Linked DNA regions of Homo sapiens. The protein of the gene in region 2 purifies or fractionates together with the protein of the main gene of each other region. This does not show direct contact. Each region holds a gene or a part of one and is shown on either strand. Other genes may lie near its edges. The genes, in order: TCP10L, ZER1, CUL2 and MGME1.

Region 1 (5,234 bases), on a different chromosome or scaffold from region 2:
ATAAAGAGACATTTGGAATCATCTTAATTTTCTGTTCTTGTCAAGAAGATGCAACCATCTCTTGACACCCACTCCGAATCTCACTTCCCCAGGATGAAAAGGTGAGCTTCTCAGGTCTCCCTCAGGGGAACCTGGCGGGCCACCCTTGCAGAAGCCACTCAGCCCACCTACCTGCAGCTCTGCAATGTTTGGGGAAGAAGCAGTGAACTCATCAGGTTGAACGTGGCTGAGAAATCCACCTTCAGAACTCTCTAAGACTGAGGAGCTTCCGTCTAAAAAGCAAATAAGTTAAATTTAAAAGGATAGTGTATATACATTGTGGAAATATCAGTATCCTAATGCGATTGCTAAATTCAATTTAAGCAAACGTGTGAACACATTCTTTCTTGTTCATGAGATTACTATACACATGTCAGGTCAGTTCAACAACAAATGATCCTGTAAGGAACATTAATTCTTTAATGAATACACTCAGTCGGTATTTCTCTTTCGAGTATTCTGATGGATCAGGAGATTCACGGATGGAAAGGCACTGTCTTGGCCCTGAAGCTGCTCACAGTCCCGCAGCAGGCAAACACAGAAGAGAAAAGCCGAATCCCTGTGACACTGGCTTACGGGACCTATGAAGGGCCACGGGCCATTGTGAAGGAGCACCACAGGCTTCCAGGAGAGCCAGGAGTCAGGGGAGCTTCCCCAGGATGGCGTCACTGTCAGCTGAGATGATGCCTGGAGGTTGCGGAGATACTAGCAGGTGTGTGTGAGAGGCAAGGTCCCCCATTCTGCCCGGCACCAGCAAGTACACTGAAGTCTTGTCCGGGGGCCTGAAGGGGAGGGGACAGCAGGAACAAGGTAGCCAGGCTGGAGCAGACCTGATGGGAAGGGCTTCCCTGCCCCACAGAGAAGTGCAGAGGGGACTGTGAGGGCACGCAGAGCCTGAGGTGGTCTGAAGCAGACAGATGGCACCAGCCTCACCTCTACGAAGCTCCCTGCAGAGGCCATGAAACAGCCTGGGGGTGGGCAGGAAGCCCGGGGGGCAGACTCAGGAGGAAGACAGTGTCAGATTCGGCCCTGAAGGGCCACGCAGACCTCGGCCAAGGATGGGAAGGAGTCCAGGTGCCAGGCAGCCCAGGGCGAGTGGTGCCCACAGGCTTGGGCTGTGCTGTGCATAAGGGCCACACCTGAAGCTCGGCCACACCTGAGGCTCGGCCACCACATAGGCCCCGTTTCTTTACCAAGATAGGTTCCTGCAGAGGTCGTGAAGCTGCTGTGGTCATTTGCTGGCAGCGACGTGAAGATAGAATTCTTTCCTGACTCAACCAGGGGCACTCTCGTCTCCTCCCCGTGAGACCCGCAATGCAGGAAGCACCCACAGCTGCATGGACAGAACTGGGGCCTGGGAAAGAGGCCAGGAAGGTGCCAGATGAGAGGGCGCTCCATCAGGGTGGCAGCAATGCCATGGGCTGGCAAATGGAGAAAGGGGAACAAAGCACCCAAGTGCATCTAGCCCCAGCCACACGCCTTCTGCTGGGAGTGTGCTCAGAGGGAAGTGACCGCTAGGATTCGGAATCTCCAGTCACGGCCCCTGGAGACCGGCATGTGGGCTGTGTGTGGGGTGGAGGGCTGGGGGTGTTGGCAAGTCTCACAGGTGAGGACCCAACGAGGGAATCAGACAAAAAGTGGCCACAAATTAGGCAGCTCCAGGAAGGACATGTCCTTGCCATAGTAAGATGTTCTGCTCACGCGTATCCACGAGAAAGCCCCGCATTTCACGGGGAGCATAGAAACAGGAGTCCCCAACTCTGCTCACCAGCTCCTCCGGCTGCTGCCATCTGCTCCTGCAGCATGGCGGCCTGGGAAGCCTGCACTGGTGATTTTCTGCCACTCAAGTTTTGCAGACTTCGGGAAGATGGATGCATAGCCTGGGGCAATGACAGTCACAGGCCCGCCTTGTCACAAGGTCCCTGGAGCGGGCAATGCCTTGAGCCCAAAGGCTGGGAGCACAAAGCCATCTTCAGCCATCCTCGATTTCCAGCAAGACCCCAGGGCTCACCCAACAGCCCGACACTCCATACTACAAGGTGGGTTAATTTTTTTAAAGACTCTGCAGAAATATACCAACTACAGAGCTCAGGAAAGCAACTGATTTATAAAACCCAATCCAAGTTGTTTGCTTTTATAGCATTAGAGACATGTCTGAAGAACTTCAAGTTTTTATCTATAGAAACATAATTAGTTTAATAAATTACTAGGTCTATTTTGAATAACAAATTGAGTACTTTTATTAGACCTAAGTGGAACTTTATCTGAATCTGAATTTTCCAAGGGGCCAGTGTAGAGTGACACAGGTGTCCGAGGCCACCTTTCCATCTTCAGACACCCCCCCGTCTCTCTGCACAGGGAGTTGGCCTTCCAGTAGGTGTTGCTCTTCTGTCTTGACGTCTCCTGGAAAGATTTTTATCTCTATTTTCCTGTGGTGGTGTTTTCCACGAGCTAATTCTTTCTATCTTTAAACTCATTGGCTGAAAACAAATGTGGGAATATTTTTGCATTAGTAACAATTATATTATTTTTAAATGTTAAGCAACACATCATACCAGCTATCACAGAATGTAGATGATTCTACTCCCCCTTCCTACAGAAGGACACATGAGGTATCCACACTTAGTGTCTCTCATTCCCCATTTTACAGCCCACGCTCTTGTGAAATTTGGGATTCCAATACATGGCTGATATTGTAAAGTCAACAGTGAAATAAAGTGCTTGAAACTCAATTCAAAAATGCATAATAAAAATAATTTTCTACATTTTGCACTATTTAACAATTGATGGTTTCAAGGCGTGGATAAGCCACCCATTCAGTTATCTATTTACTCGTACATTGCCCCGCATGCCTGTGATTAACTCAGGTCAATGATGGAGCATGAGAGAAGTCCGCGTCTCACAGGAGGCTGGGCCTGTGCAGTCCACCCTGGGACTTACGATGTTTTGTACTCATAGGATCTGAAAAGGCTCTTTTCCTACTTGTGACAAATGCTTGGAGTAGATTTCTGATCTTCCTTCAGGGAATAAAGTGTTATCTGCTCAGCAGTTGCTTTGGGAAAGAATGCGAGGGGATAAATCATCTTCAGGAGTTGGGGGCGCCTTCTCCATCCACATCAACCCAGTATCAGTTGCTGGCTGTGGACTCACGAGATTTGCTTCCTGAGTATGAGGGTGACACAAAGCTGGGACAGGAAGAGACACACTGGCTGGGAGAATGTTCTAAAGAGGAGCTAATTTTAACAAAGAAAAATGTGATAGAGACTGCCGAGACCAGCTCGGTCAGGAAGACCCTAACCCAGCAGTGCTAGAGGAATTAAAGACATACGCACGGAAGTATAGCATGTGGAGTGGGAAATCAGGGCACTCACAGCCTTCAGAGCTGAGAGCCGTGAACAGAGATTTACCCACATATTTATTGACAGCAAGCCAGTGATAAATTGTTTCTATAGATTATAGATTAACTAAAAGTATTCCTTATGGGAAACAAAGGGATGGGCCAAAACAAAGGGATGGGCTCTGGCTAGATATCCACAGCAGAAACATGTCCTTAAGGCACAGATCGCTCATGCTACTGTTTGTGGTTTAAGAACGCCTTTAAGCGGTTTTCCACCCTGGGTGGGCCAGGTGTTCCTTGCCATCATTCTGGTAAACCCACAACCTTCAGCGTGGGCATCATGGCCATCACGAACATGTCACAGTGCTGCAGAGATTTTGTTTGTGGCCAGTTTTGGGGCCAGTTTATGGCCAGATCTGGGGGCCTATTCCCAACAAGAGACAAAATAGCATCCTGTACTGTGGCTCCCAAGCTAACAGCGCCACCCCTGTTCAGAGGAGTCCACGCCGACAAGCAGCAGGTGCAAGACCGCAGTGCAGAAGCAGGGAGCACGGGAGGCTGCGAGCCCTCAGACTCACGGGTGGAGACAGTGCCACACACATCACCTCCGCAGCCTGCACCCACGGAAACAAAGCCCCCAAGTCCCCTCGGCCCCAGCCAGACGCTTGCTGCTGTGAGTGTACTCAGAGGGAAGCAGCCGGGAGGACTTGGAATCTGCTCCACAGCAAGAAGTGCTAAGGGTTAGGATCTTGTTTGAAAGGCATGTACCCGTGTCCTTGGAAGAACACAGGACTCCAGGGAGCACCATGCTCACCCAGGGAGGTGAAATTGTGTGGTGAGGAGCTGATGGGATGTGTGTGTTTGGGTACAGAACCTCTGCTTCTCTTTACAGATGATAAGCACAAAGGGTCACCTTTGGAGGAGCTGAATTGTTAGATGACGATCTTTGTCCCAGGAGAGTGGCACTCTGATTCTTGTGGCCAGCGTATTTGGGTATTGTCTCTTCATCAGCTGACAGAGGTGAAATTTTTCCAAAAGCAGGTTCCAATGCCTAAAAGACAAAATGCAGGGAAATTCTTCACATTTTCGAAGGTAAAATAAATTCAAATTTTAATACAATGAAGAATAATTGGAATGTCCTAGAAAAAAATAGGGTACAAGGTAGGGGGACTTGGACTGGGTTTTCCCCCTAATATGTTGATAAGAACAGAAACCCTCACCAAGCGTTTGTGAAGGAACCTTTGTGGAGCCGATGTTTGCTTTGTGTTTCTTATTGTGGTTCCTTGTTTCAAAATGATCACAGGATCCCAAAGGCTACAGAACAAACAATCCCCAACATATCTTCCTTTAGGCTCCTGTGTCTTCAACCGGGAGTGTGTTAACGGAGGAAGAAAATGTGATACTACTTCTAGTGTTGTCTCTACAACTTGTCTAAGATCCAAAATGCAAATTCCCAACTTTCCCTGTTATCAGCAGACTGACCTGGAACAGGGTGATCCTTCAGGTGGGATGAGGTATATTAGGTCTGGAATGCTAAATTATTCACCGTTCTGCCCTCTGAGGAGGAGAAGGGAATGAGAAGGGGAGAGGGTTGCTATGAACGAACCCTTAATATCAGATCCAGAGTGGCTCACCCACACAGCCATGCCCGCGTTCTGTGGGTGCTCGAGTCTCAGCCTTTTAGATATTCAGTCCCTAAAACGGCGACTACACACAGATACACCTTCGCATATTTAAAGTGTGGGATTCACATATCCCATCCTGTTTCTTCAAATCAGGTATGCTCTTGTGAGCGTACATCCTGTTCTTATAAATAGCCCCACGGTGACCAGTGCAATGCACAGAATGGAAAAATATT
Region 2 (5,234 bases):
CTAGGCAGCTGCTCTGCCCTTACCATGCTCCCCAAGTGGAAGAAACACCACCACGTCAGTTGTCACGGTCACCAAAAGCCCCCAAAACATAAGCCAGGTAGATGGCGCCATCTGCTAGCCTCCCCTTAGCAGTGTTGACCTTGCCACTCAGGGCTGGAATGAGCTGGAAGAGGAAGCAGCCATCTTACATCCTGGCACAGAGACTGAAGGGCCCCGGGGCTACCATGCCCTGAGACCCATCCAGCTGCGGGCCTGGCACCTGCCAGAGGCAGCCATCTCTACCTACTCCACTCTACCTACTCCATTCCTTAGGGATTGTCATTCTCAGGGCAGTCACAGGCCATCTGGAATTCCAGCAACTGAGGACAGAGGGAGCTCTGGTTATGACCGACCACCACACTGGGAGAACCCTGTGTCTTTCTCCATCCCTTTTCTTGCATGTTCTCTAATACTAGGTCTATCATGAACATTCGACATCCTGGGGAATGAAGGAAGTGGGAGAGAAGAGAGAGAAAAACAGCACCAGCAGCAGCAGCAGCAGAAGGCACCGCCATACCACGTCCATGTTGGCTGCTTCCAGATGTGGTCCTAAGCTCCTTACAGGCTTTACTCCCTCGAGTCTCTTACTCAACCGACAAAATATTTCCTAGTACCCTGTACTTGCAACTAATTAATCATTTACATAACAATTTGTCAACTGACACCCTCCTACTGCCTGTGAGCTCTGGGAGGACAGAAGCTGTATGCTTGCTTGCATGCCTGCATCCATGCACATGTACACACACACACACACACACACACACACACACACACACGTGCGCAAGCGCGCACGCACCTGTATCCTTGGTGTCTGACTTCGGTGCCCAATTTATGCCTGGTGTTTAATAGAACAAAGGTTTGCTGTGGCTGGAATTCCCTTACTCTAGTACTGCAAGATAGAGATTATTACCCCATTTTCTGATGAAGATACTGACGCATACACAACTAAGCAGAAGCTTGCCTGAGATCACAAAACTGATGAGAGTGGGATGCAAACCTAAAGCAGACCCCCGCTTCTCACCAAATATTTGGTCTTCAGTCCATCCATCCAAACAATGGGAGGGAAAGAGAAACTGAAGTCTGGAGGTGGGAGCATGGGATCCCACCAGTGTCCTGATACCCAGAGGACAGAGAGGTTGGGGGAGCCAGAAGCTCTGAGCCTTGGAGCAGTACTCACCCTGTGAAATATTAACCTAGGAGCTGGGGGGAAAACCCAAACAAATGCCCTATTTACAGAGGCTAGACGCTTTCCAGGAGGCAGCAGATCAAGGGCCAGAGACTGGGGGTGTGAGGGGAGTCACAGCAAGTGTGGGGATCTCCAGGTGGTCGGGAAACAGGTGAAAACCAGACGCCACCTGGCTCTGAAAAGTCTGCAGAGATTAAATCTATGAGTTGGGTTATGTCAGAAAGATGCAGACACACAATAATTGGGGAGTGTGCCTCACAGCTAGGTGGCTGCTCATGATGCTGGAGACAGAGAGGCCTTGAGGAGGCTGCATTCGGCTAGTAATCAGACTGGTTGGGTTCTATTCTTGTAACCAAATGTATTAATGATCCTACCCATACTGAATACCAAGTATATACCAAGAATTCTGGCTGGGCGTGGAGGCTCACGCCTCTAATCCCAGCACTTTGGGAGGCCAAGGCGGGCGGATCACGAGGTGAAGAGATTGAGACCATCCTGGCCAACATGGTGAAACCCTGTCTCTACTAAAAATACAAAAATTAGCAGGGCGTGGTGGCGGGCGCCTATAGTCCCAGCTACTCAGGAGGCTGAGACAGGAGAATTGCTTGAACCCGGGAGGTGGAGGTTCCAGTGAGCCAAGATTGCACCACTGTACTCCAGCCTGGCAACAGAGCAAGATTCCATCTCAAAAAAAAAAAAAAAAAAAGAACTCTGTTAAGTATTTTATATGTGTTAATTAATTGAATTCTCTCAACACCCAACAAGGCAGGAGTTACCATCTACAACTTACAGAAAAGGCAGCTGGAAGGAAGGGGCTATGGCTATGCAATTTGCCAGAGACTATGGATCTGAACAGACAGATATGTACACAGGTAGTTCATTAGTTCAAGACGCAGTGTGTCAGGCTGGGCACAGTGGCCTACGCCTGTAATCCCAGCACTTTGGGAGGCCAAGGCAGGTGGATCACCTGAGGTCAGGAGTTCGAGCCCAGCCTGGCCAACATGGTGAAACTCCATCTCTATTAAAAATACAAAAATTAGCCAGGCATGGTGGCGGATGCCTGTAATCCCAGCTACTTAGGAGGCTGAAGCAGGAGAATCGCTTGAACCTAGGAGGCAGAGGTTGCAGTGAGCCGAGATTGCACCACTGCACTCCTGCCTGGGTGACAGAGCAAGATTCCGTCTCAAAAAAAAAAAAAAAAAAAAAAAGACCCAGTGTGTCCAGCTTTCCAAGCAGTTCGCATCAAAGTCACAGATAACTTATTTATTTATTTATTTATTTTTCTTTCTTTTTTTTTTTGAGATGGAATTTTGCTCTTGTTGCCCAAGCTGGAGTGCAATGGCACAATCTCGGCTCACTGCAGCCTCTGCCTCCTGGGTTCAGGCAATTCTCCTGCCTCAGCCAACCAAGTAGCTGGGATTACAGGTGCCCGCCACCATGCCAGGCTAATTTTTGTATTTTTAGTAGAGACAGGGTTTTGCCATGTTGGCCAGGCTGGTCTCGAACTCCTGACCTCAGGTGATCCACCTGCCTCGGCCTCCCAAAGTGCTGGGATTACAGGTGTGAGCCACTGCGGTCGGCCTATTTATTTATTTTTCTTTTAAGAGACAGGGTCTCACTCTGTCACCCAGGCTGGAGTGCAGTGGTACGATCTCAGCTCGCTGCAACCTCCACCTCTCACGTTCAAGCAATCTCCCACCTCAGCCTCTGGAGTAGCTGTGACTACAGACGTATACCAACAGACCTGGCTAATTTTTTTATTTTTTGTAGCGATGAGGGCTCACCATGTTGCCCAGGCTTGTCTCAAACTCCTGGGCTCAAGCAATACGCCCACCTCAGCCTCCCAAAGTGCTGGATTACAGGTGTGAGCCACCGCACCCAGCTGCCACAGATAACATTTTATCAATATGATAATACATTATCATTTTGTTTCCCAGATAAGGAAACAATGGTTGAAAGATGAGCAATGAGTTGTTCCTCCGGTAAGTGTGTGACCCTAAAGTTCGAGCCCCTTGCCATTATGCTATGGGGAGGGACCATTTCTCCAACCTCAGCTTTCCCTTCTGTTCCACGAGCCTCCGCCGCTTCCTTACAACTCAGGCACTGAGCTCACATGATCCAGTACTGCTGGTAACCACTCCGTGGCATGTCATTTTTTGGCCACAGCATTGAAAGCTTCCTGAGGGCAGGGACCCTATGTGATTTCTGGGGTCTCCATTACAGAGTATGTGAGTGGCTCAATGCCAGTGACAGGGCCTCGGCTCCACAAGATCCCCAGCCAATGTTTTCCAGCCTCAATATTTATCAAGGTCCTTACCTGTCAGCATGTTGCGAGTGGCACACGCTGTGTTGCGCGTGTTGTGAACAGGGTTGCTGAGGAGATGCCATGAAAGGATGGCAGGAAGGTGGTAACCAATAATTATGAAGAGTGATGTTCCTGAGAATAATGCTTCAAGAGACCCTTCTGCATCTCTGAAGCTGGAAAATCAGTTTCAGCGATTGCGCCAGATATAAGACAGTGGTCCACAAATAGATAACCAGACAGGGGTCTCTGCACTCACCTCTCAGGACTCCAGAACAGATGAGGTACTGAAGCCAAGCAAAAAAACCAGAGTGCCAAGAGCAGTCTTCCAGCTAGTGGGCCCCCAAAACGTGTCTGCATAATCCTAGTGGTACTAATGATAATACCTTTGTAGAGAGCTTCAGAACACACCTAATTCTTTCACAAGCTGTGTCTCATTTCATCCTCCCAACAGCCTTTAGAGTTAGTCGGAGGCAAGGGAAGGCCATTATTCTTAATCTACAAATAGGAAAACTGAGGCCCAGAGAGGAGATGGAACCTGCCTAACTCACACAGCAAGCCAACAGCAGAGCCGGGATTTGAACCAGGTCCGCAGGTCACCAGCCTGGGGTTCTACCCACAACAGCCTACCCCAACATGCTGGCTCTCAGCTCCTAAGTGCTCTGACCTTTCATTTTCAAATTCTCTGGCCCAGTTGCCCTGCTCAGCCTGTGTCCCAGGCCTGAGGATATAGTCCGGGCTTGGGGTATAAGGAGGGAGATCAACTGTGGTTCTGCTTCCTATAAAGCAGGCTGGAAAGTCTCAGCCTCTGCCGGGCACTTCCGGATCACCAGCCTCTACCCGTAGATCAGCCACGCACACTCCAACCACATATCTAGGCCCAGCATACACTGCCCCTCCCCACCTGTCTCCAAGTCACATTCATTTCAACACCCTCATTTTGCCTATTTTACGTGGTAGAATGGAAATTTGCTGGGCTCATTTTAATTCTTTTTTTTTTAGAGATAGGGTTTCCCTATGTTCTCCAGACTGGTCTCAAACTCCTGGCCTCAAGCGATCCTCCCAAAGCGCTGGCAGTGCTGGGCTCTTTTTTAAAAGTCCCCATCACCCTCCGCTGCTGTCAGAAAAGCCAGGACCAAGCTAACGTCTTCTCTGCAGAATATTAACCCAGTTACCTCTGAGGGGTGTCAAGAAGTTTCTGTCTTGCTTTCCCCAATATTTCCTCAAATCCTACTAGTTGATGGAGGCAGCTAGAGCTGGTGACACCACCAGCTAGTGCTAAAACGAACGGCTCTGAGGCAGACATACATGCCCACATTCCTCATCATCACATCATCCTCATCAGCGTGACCGCTATGTATTGAGCACTTTGTGTGAAATACTGCATTAAGCACTTCAGCCCATGATTTTATCTAATCCAACAGCCCTATTTTCTTTTCTTTTCTTTCTTTCTTTTTTTTTTTTTGAGATGGAGTTTCGCTCCTGTCGCCCAGGCTGGAGTGCTGCAGTGGCATGATCTCAGCTCACTTCAACCTCCACCTCCCAGGTTCAAGCGATTCTCCTGCCTCAGCCTCTCCAGTAGCTGAGATTACAGGCATGCGTCACCACACCCGGCTAATTTTTGTATTTTTAGTAGAGATGGGGTTTCACCATGTTGGCCAGGCTGGTCTCGAACTCCTGACCTCAGGTGATCCACCTGCCTCCCAA
Region 3 (5,234 bases), on a different chromosome or scaffold from region 2:
TTGACACAAAATTCGATGCTTCTATGCCCAATGTCATTGGACATGGAATCTATAAACGTAATAATGTAAACTAGTAAGTTTGACAAATAATAGAGTAATAAACCTGAATACTATAAACTAATAGTTCTACAAAAAATAGAAAACTGTGGTAAAGGGAATTTGAAGAAATAAAAAAATAGAAAACTTACACATTATTGTGGCATAACATAAAAACTAAAAATTATTACTTGCCAAAAACCAATCTGCAGCTAAGGTAACAGCCTCTAAAAAGTGCTCCTGAACAGTGACGTCTATACACAGATACTATCTTATAGATGAAGGGCAAACAGCTCTACTTAAGAAGAGACAGTAACATTTGAAGTTATTTCTCTCTTGCTCATCAAACATTACCAGTAATAACAAGATTTGGTGATGGGAAAGACAAACTGTTACAGTACAAACTGTTACAGTCATGTGATTGGCAAAGTATTCGAGAAAGATGAGTATTAGGGATATGAGGGTTATTGTTTTGGGTATTTGGGGCAGCAAGCATATACTTACAGAAGATTATTTTAATCTAAATTTGCTTCCTGGACAACCAAATTCAGAGGATATGGAAAGGAGGCAAATTGCAAGTCGTCTATATTACCACTGATTAATACTACTACCATGACAACAAACTACGTTATCAATGCCAATTACACAAAAACACAGTTATTTAAAAATGGCGAGCTTATTTTCCTGTGGAAAGTTAACAACTGTTCAATGGACACCCTCCGTATGGCTAAGCAGCAGCCTATCAATAGCTTTCTAATAATCTGATAATTCCAAAATGAGTCCAACAAATTCTAGGTTTAAAACATTTGAATAAAGACATTTCTTTCGTTGGCATGGTAAGACTTTTTCTTTCATCTTTCAAAACAATAAAGTCAAAGGAAAGGCTCCACGCTGGATCTGATTAGGAGGAAAACATTGCAGTTTCCCACACAACTCACGTTTTCCTGAGTAAGGTTGCTGGTTGCTCGAAGGCCCTCATCATGGATGTGGTTTTGCAGCTCCTGAATCATATGAGGTAAACCAGTGGACACAGCACGGAGTAAGACGTACATATTTGCCATGTCTGAGAGGAAAAAGACATCTGAGGGTTAACTCCCAAATATTTTCATTTATTAGGTAATATATGGATCCAAGTGCAGGAGTACAATATACGGATCCAAGTGCAGAGCACCCAGAGAAAAGTCCCCCATGCCCACCTCCCAGCCACCCAAGCCCCTCTCCCCACAGGAAAGGGATGTGGTTATTTAACATCTTCCCAAAGATATTTTGTGCAAATTCAAGTGAATACATATATTCTTCCCTTTGCCCCTTTTAATACAGTGTACTGTATTTTGTATATTATTTGTAGCTTCAGAACACATTTTAACTTAGTGGTCTTTTCCTATCAGTACACAAAGCATTTCTATGTATTTTACAGCTGCACAGTACTCCATTATGTGGATATAATTTCTTAACAACTGATGGAAATTTAGGTGGTTTCCAGTCTCTTGATATTGCAATGTTGCAATCAATAATCTTATACATGAGCAAGAATATATGCAATATAAGTTCCCAAAAGTGAGGTTACTGTGTCAAAGTTTAATCTTGTAGACAGATCCTTCTAACCACAGCTGCCAACAGCAGAGAGTTCCTTTGCCAACAATGTGTTGCCAAATGTTTTGATCTCTAACACTGGGAGGTGAATAATGATCTCTCAGTGTAGTAGGTTTAATTTTAAACGTTTCATTAAAGCATCATACATATACAGAAAAGTATACAAACCATAAGTGTATATCTTACTGAATTATCACAAGTGAACACACAACACACCCATGTAATCACACGCAGGATAAGAAACAGGCATTACCTACACCCAGGAGTCCCCTTCATGCCTCCTTCCAATCACACACTCTTGCTCCTCTGCAAAGGTAACCACTGCTGTGACTTCTAAATCACAGATGAGTTTGAACTACGTATAAAAATGGGATCACACAATTCTTTCGTGTCTGGCTTCTTGTGTTCAACATGTGTATAAGGATCATCTATGTTGTTGTGCATGGCTTTAATTTGTTCATTTCCACTCCTCTATAATATTCCATTGTATGAATATACTGTACTATTCTACAGTAACTGGACATTTGAGCTGTTCCAGTTTATGGAGCTATTACAAACACTACTATGAACATTCCTGTATGTCTTTTTGTATATATGTCCAGGCATTGGCAGTGGGGAGGTAAAGCTGGGGGGTGGTTATATGTTTAGGAGAACTGCTGGATCATAAAATATGCATAATATATCCCACTTAGCGGTCAGTGCCAGTTTCCCAAAGTAGTTGCATCAATTTATACTCTCACTTCAGTGTTCAACAAGTTCCTGCTACTTCACACTTCTTTCTATGTTTATTGGCCATCTGGGTATCTTCTATTCTGCAGTGCCTGTTTTTTGAGCATTTTATATTTTGGATATAAATCTTTAGTATTGCAGGTACATTACCCTATAACTGTCTTCTGATGATCCAGTGGTTTTAATGGCTTTTTTTGAGACAGGGTCTTACTCTGTCACCCAGGCTGGAGTGCAGTGGCAGGATCTCGGCTCACTGCAACCACCACCTCCCAGATTCAAGTGATCCTCCCACCTCAGCCTCCCAAGTAGATGGGACCACAGGTGCACACCACCCCGCCTGGCTAATGCTTGTATTTTTTTGCAGAGATGGGATACTGTCATGTTGCCCAGGCTGGTCTTGTACTCCTGAGCTCAAGCAATCTTCCTCCCTCTTAATGGCCTTTTAATAATCCAAAGTTTTTCATTTTAATGTAGTTCACTGGATCAATCGTTCCTTTGTGGTTAGGGCTTTTTGTGTCCTATTTAAAATATCTTTCCCTGTCTCAAGGTTATGAAGATATTCTTCTATATTATCTTCTAGAAGTGTTATTTTTTTACCTTGTACATTTAGAGAAAAAACTCAATAGTGAATTGATTTTGTATATGGTATCTTGAGGTAGTGATCAAATTTCATTTTCTTCTGAAATGGATATCCAATTGACTGAGCAATGCGTGTTGAAAAGACCATCTTTTACCTGCCGCTCTGCAGCGCCACCTTGGTCTTACATCAAGTGGCCACATATGCTTGGGTTGTTTCTAGGATCTCTTATTTTATTAGGATATCTGTCTGTCCTTGTACCAATGCCTCACTGTCTTAATTACTATAGGTTTTACAATAAGTCTTGCTGGTCATTAAAGTCTTTCCATCATACTCTTCAAGACAGTGACTTTCGGAATTAAAATGAAATTATTGGGTTTTGACTACATTGCCCTGGATCTATGAAATTAATGTTGCTGTAAAAAACACGGGGCCAAGGGTGGTGGCTCGTGTCTATAATCCCAGCACTTTGGGAGGCCAAGGCAGGTGGATCACGAGCTCAGGAGTTCGAGACCAGCCGGCCAACATAGTGAAACCTCGTCTCTACTAAAAATACAAAAATTAGCCAGGTGTGGGGGCGGATGCCTGTAGTCCCAGCTACTCAGGAGGCTGAGGCAGGAGAATCGCTTGAACCCAGGAGGCAGAGGTTATAGTGAACAGAGATCGCGCCACTGCATTATAGCCTGGGCCACAGAGCGGGACTCCGTCTCAAAAAACAAAAACAAAAAGCCTGATTAATGGCCGGGCGCGGTGACTCACACCTGTAATCCCAGCACTTCGGGAGGCCGGGGCAAGCAGATTATCTGAGGTCAGGAGCTCAAGACCAGGAGGCCAACATGGTGACACCCCGTCTCTACTAAAAATACAAAAATTAGCTGGATGTGATGGCACACACCTGCAATCCCAGCTACTTGGGAGGCTGAGGCAGAATTGCTTGAACCTGGGAGGCAGGGGTTGCAATGAGCCAAGATCATGCCATTGCACTCCAGCCTGGGCGACGGAGCGAGACTCCATCTCAAAAAAATTAATTAATTAAATAAAATATACATATTTATTATCTTTCCTGCCTATAAAAGTAATGCATGTTTTTTGTTTTTTTAAAAATCAGAGAGGCCGGGCGCAGTGGCTCACGCCTGTAATCCCAGCACTTTGGGAGGCTGAGGCGGGCGGACCACAAGGTCAGGAGTCCGAGACCAGCCTGACCAACATGGTGAAACCCTGTCTCTACTAAAAGTACAAAAAAATTAGCCAGGTGTGGTGATGAGCGCCTGTAATCCCAGCTACTCAGGAGTCTGAGGCAGGAGAATCACTTGAATCTGGGAGGCGGAGGTTGCAGCGAGCCAAGAGCACGCCGCTGCACTCCAGCCTGGGCGACAGAGTGAGACTCTGTCTCAAAAAAAAAAAAAAAAAAAAAAAAATCAGATATAGCTGATTTTTTATATTATATAAATTATTACATTTATTACATAATATTTGTATTTCCTTTTTATAGTCTTTGCCTTTATTCCTACTGTTTATCAGGAATTCTAAATGCATTAAGGAAATTAGCTCTTGTAATATATAAAAATGTATAAACACAATTTCCCACTTTTTCTTCTGATTTTAGAACACTCTGAAAACACTTTCCTAAAATAGTCTTTCAAAATAAAGTATTAATAATCTGTAAAAGGTTATTTAAAATATTTTAAAGACTATTACTAAAATAGGCATTAAATCAAGGGTGACTAGAGGATGATATAAAAGGTGGATTTATAATTTAATTTCTACTCATGTTTGGTGTCACTTACCATTTTTTTTCTCTTGTCGAATTATATTATGACATTCTGCATGTAAAAACTGTAAGTGGTCTGCTACCATTCGTTGTTGACATTCATGAATCACCTTAGTATATGAACTTGGATGTAGGTATTTTCGACATCGAATTTCTTCATCTTTTAATCTACCTAGAACCTATAAAAATATTTTCTTACAGTCATGAACACAAAGTTTTACTATGAGGAAAAATCTGTAATATCAGCAAGTAACTCAGCCAAATTTTAATGGCTGAATTAAACATGGCAAAGGTAATAAGGGTTACATAAGCAATTTAAACCCACATTCTATAAATCATTTCAAATTTTTATTTAAGCTACTAGCTGTCATCTACATTCCACCAGTCTTATAAGCAAGAACTAAAGTTAAATAGTCTGCATTTTGTCTTCATTTACCTACACCATTCATCCTATTACATGGACAACATAACATGTAACAGGAAAAGTGGGTACAGATGATTAAATTCAGAACAGGTGATCTCTGTTAT
Region 4 (4,536 bases), on a different chromosome or scaffold from region 2:
AAAAAAAAAGGCCCAAGAAGAGGGTGGAAAAGTGCTTTTTTTTTCTTTTTTGAGACAGGATCCCACTCCCATCGTCCAGGCTGGAGTGCAGTGGCACAATCTCGGCTCGTTGCACCCTCGAAGCTGAGGCGGGCACCACTTCCGGCTGATTTTTCTATTTTTAGTAATGATGGAGTTTTGTCACGTTGCCCAGGCTGGTCTTGAACTCCTGGGCTCAAGCAATCTGCCCACCTCGGCCTCCTTCAAAGTGCTGGGATTACAGGCATGAGCCACCACCCCTGGCCAAAAAGTGCTATTTATTTATTTATTTATTTATTTATTTATTTGGAGAGAGACAGTCTTGCTCTGTTGCCCAGGCTGGAGTGCAGTGGAACAACCTTGGCTCACCGCAACCTCCGCCTCCTGGGTTCAAGCGATTCTCCTGCCTCAGCCTCCCAAGTAGGTGGGACTAGAGGCACACACCACCACGCCCAGCTAATTTTTGTATTTTTAGTAGAGACAGGGTTTCGCCATGTCAGCCAAGCTGGTCTTGAACTCCTGACATCAGGTGATCTGCCCAACTCGGCCTCCCAAAGTGCTGGAATTATAGGCTTGGGCCACCACACCTGGCCTATTTATTTATTTTTGAGACAGGGTTTTGCTCTGTCGGCCAGGCTAGAGTGCAGTGGTACAATCTCGGCTCACTGGAACCTCCACTTCCTGGGCTCAAGCAATCCTCCCACCTCAGCCTCCCAAGTAGCTGGCACAAGTGTGCGCCACCATGTCCAGCTAATTTTTGTATTTTTTTTGTAGATACGGGGTTTCACTATGTTGCCCAGGCTGGACTCAAACTCCTGAGCACAAGCAATCTGCCTGCCTCGGCCTCCCAAAGTGCGTGAGCCACTGTGCCCAGCCAAAAAGTGCTTTTTTAAGTGGGAAAGGAACAAGGAAGACGTTAAGCAATGGGATAAAAATAGAGATTAAAAAAGGAAAAACCTCAAGGAGTTCTATTTTTTAACTTTTTTTTTTTTTACAATTTTTCTCCTCCTACCCCCCCACTGAGAAGTTTTTTTTTTTTTTTTTGAGACAGATTCGAGATGGAGTCTCACTCTCTTGCCCAGGCTGGAGTGTAGTGGCGCAATCTTGGCTCACTACAACCTCCACCTCGCGGGTTCAAGCAATTCTCCTGCCTCAGCTACTAGAATAGCTGGGATTACAGGCATGAGCCACCATGCCCAGCTAGTTTTTGTATTTTTGGTAAAGACAGGGTTTCACCATATTGGCCAGGCTGGTCTTGAACTCCTGACCTCAAGTGATCCACCGGCCTTGGCCTCCCAAAGTGCTAGGATTACAGGCATGAGCCACTGCGCCCGGCCCGGAGTTATAGTTTTAAGTAAGCATTGAGCAAAGCTTTAAGTAAAGGCTCAGTGTCCTGACCTGAAAGCTGTAGTTGGTATCATGGTTCATGGCACCCATGTATGCCACAACTTGCAGTGGGTTGTCAAATGTACTTTGAATAAAAGGCTTTGGTTTCTCTGATGTCTTCCAATCAATCACACAGAGCTTGCCCCTAAAGAGAAACCACAGGAAGACTTTGTAGGTAATAGATCACAATGAAAATCTCTACTAGGTTAACAGTTCTCTTATGTATAGTTTGTTACTTGTCAGCCAATGACCATTGCTCTTATTCACCATTTTTTTCCTTTTTTAAAAAAGAGATGGGGTTTCATATGTTGCCCAGGCTAAACGCATACTCCTGGGCTCAAGTGATCCTCCCACCTCAGCCTCCCAAGTAGCTGGGACTATAAGTGCACCCCCCCACTTTTTCTCCCTCTTTTTTTGCATCAAATAACCAGTGGATTCCTCCCCCCATCCCCTATCCTGGTCGGGTTTATACTTGCCAAATGCAAATATCAAAAGGATACAGAGAGTGGACCAGTAACTGGTGACTCTCAAAGGACTCTATCGGTTCAATCTGTCTTTCATGACTTCAATTTCAAAATCAGCAGTTTATAGGGAGATTTTGTACAAAGCATGTATATTACTTACATGTCACTATAGCTCTAGACAGTTACACCTCATGCAAACTCAGTCTAGAGCAGCACTGGCTAAAAGAAGTAAAATGTGAGCCATGTGTCATTTTAAATTTTCTAGTAGCCACATCGGAAAAGAAAAAAAAAATACAGCTGAAATTTTAACATTTTACTTAACCCAACATATCCAAAATATCATTTCAACATGTAATCAACTAACAAATGATTAATGGGATATTTTACGTCTTTTTTTTATTATAGGGATATTTTACATTCTTTTTTGTACAAAGTCATTGAAATGTAGTTTGTATATTGCTATAGCACACCTTAGTTTGGCCTGACCACATTCAAATGCTCAATAGCTATAGGGGTTAGTGGCTACTCTACTGGACAGTTTAGGTTTAGAGATAATTTTATTGTCTTCAGAATTGTTTTGTAATATTGCCAAGTTTGACAATCTGTGTAGTTGAGAAAAGGGCCCCAGTAACTCTAGGATGCCATTCCTGGTTCTTCTTTTTTTTTTTTTTTTTTTAGATGGAGTCTCACTCAGGCTGGAGTGCAGTGGTGTAATCTCGGCTTACCACAACCTCCGCCTCCTGGGTTCAAGCTATTCTTCTGCCTCAGCCCCCTGAGTAGCTGGCATTACATGTGTGCGCCACCTCGCCCAGCTAATTTTTGTATTTTTAGTAGAGATGGGGTTTCGCCCTATTGGCCAGGCTGGTTTCAACTCCTAACCTCAAGTGATCCACCCGCCTTGGCCTCCCAAACTGCTGGGATTACAGGTGTGAGCCACCATGTTATATTTCTGCCACAGAACACTGTTTGCAGCAATGTACTGTAATTGTAGAACTTAATAAATGTAAAAAAAAAAACCTTAATAGCATTCTGAAAACTATAAAATATTGATGAAAGAAACTGAAAATGATACAAATAAATGGTAAGATATCCTCTGTTTATGGACTGGAAGAATATTGTTAAAATGTCCATACTATCCAAAGCAATCTATAGGTTCCACGCAATCTTTATCATAATTCCAATGGCAGGCCAGGTGTGATGGCTCACACCTGTAATCTCCAGCACTTTGGGAGGCCAAGGCAGGTGGACTGCTTGAGCTCAGGAGCCCGAGACCAGCCTGGGCAACATGGTGAAACCCTGTCTCTATAAAAAATACCAAAAAATCAGCCAGGTGTTGTGGCTGGAGCCTGTTGTCCCAGCTACTCAGGAGGCTGAGCCCAGGAGGTGGAGTTTGCAGTGAGCCGAGATTGCACCACTGCACAACAGCGTGGGTAACAAAGCCAGACCCTGTCTCAGGAAAAAAGAAAAAAAAAAAATTCTGCCGGGCACGGTGGCTTACACCTGTAATCCCAGCACTTTGGGAGGCCAAGGTGGGCAGATCACCTGAGGTCAGGAGCTCCAGACCAGCCTGGCCAACATGGTGAAACCTCGTCTCTACTAAAAATACAAAAATTAGCCAGGCGTGGTGATGTGCCCCTGTAATCCCAGCTACTCGGGAGGCTGAGGCAGGAGAATTACTTGAACCTGGGAGGCAGAAGTTGCAGTGAGCTGAGACTGTGCCATTGCACTGCAGCCTGGGCGACAAGGGTGAAACTCTGTCTCAAAAAGAAAAAAAAATTCCAACATCATTTTTCACAGAAATAGAAAAAAAAAAATCCTAAAATTAACACGGAACCACAAAAGACTCCGAATAGCCAAAGCAATCTTGAGTGAAAAGAATGAAGTCGGAGGCATCACACTGCCTGATTTCAAAGTACAGTCATGTGTAGCTTAATGACAGGGATATGTCCTGAGAAATGCATGGTTAGGCAATTTTGTCATTGTGCAAACATAGAGTATATTACACAAACCTAGGTAGGATAGCCTACTACACACCCAGACCTTTGCTCCTAGGCTACAAACCTGTACAGCATGTTACTGTACTGAATACTGCTGGCAACTATAACACAATGGTAAGCATTAGTGCATCTAAACACAGAAAAGGTACAGTAAAAATGTGGTATAAAAGATAAAAAACAGTATACTTGTATAGGGCACCTACCACGAATGCAGCTTGCAGGACTAGAAGTTGCTCTGGGTGATTGAGTGAGTGAGCGGTGAGTGAATGTGAGGGCCTGGGACATTACTGTATACTACTATAGACTTTATAAACACTGTACACTTACGCTACACTAAATTTATAAAAAACGTTTTTCTTTCTTCAATAATACATTAACTTTAGCTTACTGTAACTTTTTTACTGTATAAACTTCTTTAATTATTTTGAGATGGTGTTTCACTCTTGTTGCCCAGGCTGGAGTGCAATGGCACAATTTTGGCTCACTGCAACCTCCACCTCCCAGGTTCAAGCGATTCTCCTGCCTCAGCCTCCCAAATAGCTGGGATTACAGGCATGCACCACCACGCTTGGCTAATTTTGTATTTTTAGCAGAGATGGGGTTTTGCCATTTTGGCCAGGCTGGTTTCAAACCCCTGACCTCAGGTGATCCACCCACCTTGGCCTCCCAAA

What was found.
Region 1: the proteins of ZER1 (region 2) and TCP10L purify together in Homo sapiens (co-immunoprecipitation; one large-scale study listed by IntAct). This does not show direct contact.
Region 3: the proteins of ZER1 (region 2) and CUL2 purify together in Homo sapiens (affinity purification with western blotting; 2 studies listed by BioGRID and IntAct, with this or other methods). This does not show direct contact.
Region 4: the proteins of ZER1 (region 2) and MGME1 purify together in Homo sapiens (co-immunoprecipitation; one large-scale study listed by IntAct). This does not show direct contact.

The regions. Positions count from the first base shown.
Region 1 is NC_000021.9:32,574,405-32,579,638, forward strand, and holds part of TCP10L (T-complex protein 10A homolog 1), read right to left. Parts: intron 4,428-5,234; coding exon 4,290-4,427; intron 2,520-4,289; coding exon 2,370-2,519; 3' UTR 1-2,369. Other genes in the region: CFAP298-TCP10L (uncharacterized protein LOC110091775), read right to left, coding at 2,370-2,519, 4,290-4,427. UniProt on the Homo sapiens protein: May be involved in transcriptional regulation. Has in vitro transcription inhibition activity. Acts as a tumor suppressor in hepatocellular carcinoma (HCC) cells.
Region 2 is NC_000009.12:128,764,436-128,769,669, forward strand, and holds part of ZER1 (protein zer-1 homolog), read right to left. Parts: intron 1-5,234. UniProt on the Homo sapiens protein: Serves as substrate adapter subunit in the E3 ubiquitin ligase complex ZYG11B-CUL2-Elongin BC. Acts to target substrates bearing N-terminal degrons for proteasomal degradation with the first four residues of substrates being the key recognition elements.
Region 3 is NC_000010.11:35,034,198-35,039,431, forward strand, and holds part of CUL2 (cullin-2), read right to left. Parts: intron 4,886-5,234; coding exon 4,723-4,885; intron 1,100-4,722; coding exon 975-1,099; intron 1-974.
Region 4 is NC_000020.11:17,985,179-17,989,714, reverse strand, and holds part of MGME1 (mitochondrial genome maintenance exonuclease 1 isoform 2 precursor), read right to left. Parts: intron 1,550-4,536; coding exon 1,417-1,549; intron 1-1,416. UniProt on the Homo sapiens protein: Metal-dependent single-stranded DNA (ssDNA) exonuclease involved in mitochondrial genome maintenance. Has preference for 5'-3' exonuclease activity but is also capable of endonuclease activity on linear substrates.